Linked DNA regions of Homo sapiens: region 1 is linked to region 2. The links come from fine-mapping of genetic effects on gene expression. A gene starts in region 2. The other region holds a variant in brackets. All regions are shown on one strand. Distances are from middle to middle. Region 1 has its middle 68 kb from the start of LINC02621. Region 2 holds the start of ARID5B (AT-rich interaction domain 5B).

Region 1 (2,970 bases), 290 kb before region 2:
TTCAAGGGCAGAAAGCATGTTTTATTGACATTTAACCCTGTCATAGTATACTGTAATGAGAGTGAGTACAGCTTATTGGGTAATATGTGTAAGATACTATACTGTGTTAAATATTTTATATAAATTAATCATTACCATATTCTCTCAGTAGCCCCCCTTAACACACACAAGAGTGGAAGACTTGCTCTGGGTCATATACTGCATGGTAGTTGACTACGGACTCTGGAGTTAGACTTGGGTTAAATTCTAGCTCTGTCATGACTTAGCTATATGATTTGGGGCTTTTTTTTTTTAACCTCATTTGGGTTTTTTATTTTAATGTTTAAGATAAAAAAAAACCTTATAATATAGTTGTGTTTATTAAATAAGGTAATGCATGTAACACATAGTCTAGGACCTAATACTTAAGTTCCTGCCTTGTTTCTATAGGTTGACATATAGTATGTAACACGTGTATGAAGAGGGAAGAGGATACAGCTGATAGAGACCCAACACACACACAGTAACTTAGTCACTTATAACCCCTCTCCTATTTTCATTTCTTGCTTGATGTGAACATGTTAGGCTCACAGTGCATAAAAGTTTAGGAAATACCTAAAAGTGTATCCAAATACTTATTGTTCATTGTCTCTTGAACTCTATATTTGGCACTATTGGGGCTTATAAATTAAAAGACAGCCTATTCTTAAGCTCACGTGAATTCCGGTGAGTAGAACCAATCATTAGAGACTATGGAGATGAAGCATGGTTTGACCTGCCTCCCATATATCTAACATAAATCTGTCTGGATACAAGCAATCCCTACCTGCCACTGGGAAACTTAGGTTATAAAGATTAAAAAATACATAAAACACTGTGGGCAGTATGAAAGAGTAATCAGTATTACACAATTTAGCATCTCATTTTAAGTGCTGTGAAAGATCTGTGACGGATTGAGTTAAGGCTGGGCACGGTGGCTCATGCCTATAATCCCAGTACTTTGGGAAGCCAAGGCAGGCAGATTGCTGGAGCCCAGGAGTTCAAGAGCAGCTTGGGCAATGTAGTGAAACCTTGTCTCTACAAAAAATAATAATAATTAAAACATAGCCATGTGTGGTGGCACATGCCTGCAGTCCCAGCTACTTGGGAAGCTGAGGTGGGAGGATAACTTGTAACTTGAGCCGAGAGTTCCAGCTGCGATGAACTGTGATC[G/A]AGTCACTGTACTCCAGCCTGGGCAGAGTGAGACCCTGCCTCAAAAAACTAACGAGTTAAGAAGTGCAAAAGTATATACTATGAATATCTTGCAAAGATATAAGGATTAATAATAATAGGGTTTTCAAATCTAGAAGGGATGAGTAAAATAGAAGATAATTCATCCAATGGGTTCCTGGAGGAGTTTCATTTTGCAGCATTCAAAGGGAGGTTAGTAGTCATAGAAGTGGAAAGGAATGAATGGATAAGGCAGTTGGCTGGGCAGAAATGGAATGAGCGTATTGTGAAGTAAATTGTAGGTAAAACAAGTAGGCATGATTGAAGCAAATGTGGCAGTAGGTGAGAGATGGGATATGCTGGACCACATAAAGGACCTTGAATGCTAGTTCAAGAAAGTAAGACGGGTTAAGCTGGAATAGTTGGCATCAGAACTAGAGCTGACGGAGTTAGGAGAATGAGCACTCAGCCCCTGGCTACCATTAACTAGCCACGTTGTCTTGGACAAGGTATTTACTCACCTGTTCAACTTCCTTATTAACATTAAACAGGTGAGTAAATACTTTGTTCTAGACAACATGGCTAGTTAACAACTGGGATGGCTACTGGTGTTTGTCTCAAATTGATCTAGACAGCCCTAAGTCCCTGAGTTGATGCCTTTGGAGGTGGCAACCAGTAGGGTGATGCCAGGCGAGGGAGTCTCTGGATCTCTCCTAATTCGGCCAAAGCAGCTCTAAGTTTATCTGTTTTATGTTTTAACCCCATGAGGTAGTATTTTAACAATCCCCATTTTACAGATTAGTAATTGGAGGCACAAAACAATTAAGTAACTTGCTCACAGTCTCCCAGTAAGTGGAGACAGGATTTGAACCTAATCAGTTATTGAAGAAAGTGCTCTCATCCTCAGTATACCAACAGCCTCTGATAAACGTGAAATAGCAAAAAAGCATTGAGACCAAGGTTTGCCAGACTAGCCTCCAAACTCTTTTTTCCCCAATAATGTGGTCACTTGATGTATTCCTTTGCATTAAAGCCCTAAATGAAAATCCATTTCCTTCGCAATTAGATCCAGCCTATATTATTCTGTGCATAATGCTTGGCCCTGGGTTGAAGGAACATTTGAGCATATGTAAACCTAGATAGACTCCACTGTCAGGCTGCAGAAAGCACTAAAAAAAATATGAATGAGAGGAAAAGATAAATTCTATCCAGAGACATCTGGGACAACTAGAAGAAGTGGTATTTGAACCAGACCTTGAAGTATGAGTTGGTTTTCATTAATTACATTTCTTTAGGTAGAAGGCAACAGAAACTAACTTAAGCTGAAAATGAAGAAAAAAAAAAAGGTGGGTGAATTTATTTATTTTAAGAAAAAAAAAAAATCTCTGTTGCCCAGCCTGGACTACAGTGGCGTGATCTTGGCTCACTGCAACCTCCCCTTCAAGCCAGGTTCAAGCCATTCTCCTCCCTCAGCCTCCCGAGTAGCTGGGACAACAGGCATGTGCCTCCATGCCCAGCTAATTTTTGTATTTTTAGTAGAGATGGGGTTTCACCATGTTAGCCAGGCTGGTCTTGAACTCCTGACCTCAGGTGATCTGCCCGCCTCAGCCTTCCAAAGTGCTGGGATTACAGACGTTTGCCACTGCACCTGGTGGGTGAATTTATTGATAGGCTATTGGAATCACTCAGAAGACTGAAGAATGCCTAGGAAAGGTTGACAGGAAAACTCAGGGGTCCTCAGCAACATCAAGATTGAAAGAATACAGTCTGTTCCTCTCCTAG
Region 2 (2,500 bases):
CTGGACCCGCAGGGCCAGTGGGCGAGCACACACCCCTCTGCCCTCCCCTCCCCCGCCCCCGTCCCACACACCCCCAAAGATCGCGCAGGAGGACGTCCACTTTGCGTGGAGTAATTGCAAACTAGAACATCAAATGGCTTGTCCGGGGGGAGGGGGAGTGGGCGAGAGATAGTTGTTAATGCTTAACGTGTTTGTGCCTGTTACACCACCGCTTTGAAATCCGCCCGGGCAGATCTGCAAGTTATTTGAATGTATTATTCCAGTACCTGTCATTTATCACTTTATTCAACACGTCTTTGCCAACTCAATAGCTTTTGATCTCATTCTGCCTCCATTTCGTAATTTCCGCCCTCTTAAACATATCAAATACTTACTTTGAAAAAAGAACAATATCGAAACCCACCGAAAGAAATCCACCCAGACACGACCGAGCCAGACACGAAGGTAAATTTTCAAAAGGCAAAAAATATAAAAAGCATGTGATGTTCAAGAGGCAATAGCAGGAGAGCAAATGAACACACACACACACATACACACACACACACACACACACACACACATCCTTGAACAAAACCCTTCTCGAACAAGTTATTTGATCTTGACTAAAATCAGCAGTTGGATCCTCTTTGTAAAGCTGACAGCCAAACTCTGACAATGGCAAAATACTCGAGCCCCAGCTAGTGGCGCTACCCCTTTAAAAAAGGAGTCGATCCTGCTTGCCTGCAGAAGTGAATACAGTATTTTCAAGCTTGCCCTGTAATAAGCATTACTAGGGGGAAAAATAATAAAGAAAGAAGAGGGGGACAGACAGGTTTACCACCTCGCCATGGTCGCTATTTCTGCCCTGGGGAGTGTCTTCTGGGAGGAAATAAAGTTTAGAGCTGGATAAAAGTTGCCGGCTGGTCCTCTCTTCCCACAACAGCTGGAGCTCCGCTATGCAAATCGGATCCTTTGGCGTACATCTTACAAAGAAAAAGTCGCCAAGGGACAAAATTCTTGGTTTGCCTTCAAGGTGGAATTGAAAAGCCTTGTAGAAAATGTAAGGTCCGTGCAAGCCACACGGTGAGCCGACCCACTGCAGGGGGGGAAAAAAACACCAAATAAATAATGTAGCCATCAGAGCACAAACATCTATTCCCAGACACATTTACACACAGACATCCACTCTCTTAATACAGACGACCCAACAGATATAACGCTGGGTGGAAAAATAATAGCACCCACAAATTTTCTGCTTCCCTAAAAAAAAAAAAAAAAAAACTCAGGGCCCCCCACCGCCACTTCTACCCACCTCCCCATTTGAGGCGGTAAAATTACATTATGTATGTATGATCAGTGCAGGGATTTTTTTAAACAATAAAAATGATTTTGGGGGATGCAGAGGGTAAAAGTTTGGTGAAAAGTTTGTGGGGGGTGTGGGTGGGTGCAGAGGTGTGGGTGAGCTGGGGGGTTGGGGGGTGCCGGGGGGTGCCGGGATCGGAGGAGCGGAGGAGAGCGAAATACCTGGAGTGAGTTGGGCTCCATCTCGACGTTCTGAATTGATTGAACTCAACATTCTCTCCAAACTTGTTGGCTTGAATGGATTGCATCAGGTCCTGGCAGGGAAACGCATTCTCTGCCTTCAGCCGGCGTAATGTCTCAATATAAAACTGAGCTCTTGCCTCCCTTCGGGCACCGAAATGATTGAAAATATGTCCTAATATTTCTATAACGACTCAATTTTCAGCTCCTGAAAAAACTATGTGGGTTTTCTTCCAAAGATGGATTGATCAAATTCATAATCGAGAGAAAGGCGCCATACGATCTCGGCGGGAAGAGGATGGATCAAGGCAAAAAACACACAAGAAGATTTGTAAAAATAAAAAGCACCCTAAAACTGTGTGGAGATGTGATTCCTCTCTCTCTAACCGCTCCTGTCTGGGATATCGTCTGATGAGATTTTTGGAGGAGAGGAGGGGTAGCGAGCTCCACTGTGCATCTGACAGGACCTGCTTGTATATGTCTAATATAAAGAACATTTCCTGCAGAGATTCCGGGGCGCTGCTCCTCTTTCTAATGCTTCTTAGCAGATTTGCTGTTATTAGACATGTAGATTTGTTTGATAGTTAAATTACGCTTCCTCACTGCCATGTTTTCGAGAACTAATCTGTTAAATTATCTTTTGATGCCTATTTACATGGAAGGGAAAAGTGGGTTATCGATTATATAAACATATAAATATTAATGCATTTGTTCGCTTCGCAAAAAAATACTCAGCAAAAAAAAAAGAGACAAGTGAGCAGTGCACACACATCTTAGGATTTCGCAAACAATATTGAACGGACAGCGACTGCATTTAGGGACTGGAACAATAAACGATGCATGATAAATCAATAAATGCGAGAAGCGAGTCTGCTCAGAATATGAATTCAGGCTCCCGGTTCTGCGTGTGCATTCTTTAATTTTGAAGTATATACACTAGTACGTGTTTACAATGCTGATGGACGCCAAGGGCGCTCTC

Evidence for each region. PIP is the estimated chance that this variant, and not a neighbour inherited with it, causes the effect. A credible set is the group of variants that fine-mapping cannot tell apart.
Region 1: its variant is the best candidate, but not a certain one, in a credible set for the expression of ARID5B in whole blood (INTERVAL, PIP 0.66).

What each region holds. Positions count from the first base shown.
Region 1 is chr10:62,189,416-62,192,385 of GRCh38, reverse strand. It overlaps a transcript of RTKN2 not described here. Among named protein-coding and RNA genes, the nearest start is that of LINC02621, 68 kb to the left of the region's middle. The variant G/A (reference allele first, on the strand shown) is at 1,192.
Region 2 is chr10:61,900,734-61,903,233 of GRCh38, reverse strand. ARID5B (AT-rich interaction domain 5B) reads right to left here and starts at 1,535. Exons shown (of 10, transcript NM_032199.3): 1 at 1,504-1,535; 2 at 821-1,075. The coding sequence starts at 1,524. RefSeq lists a silencer at 1-103 and an enhancer at 1,343-1,845.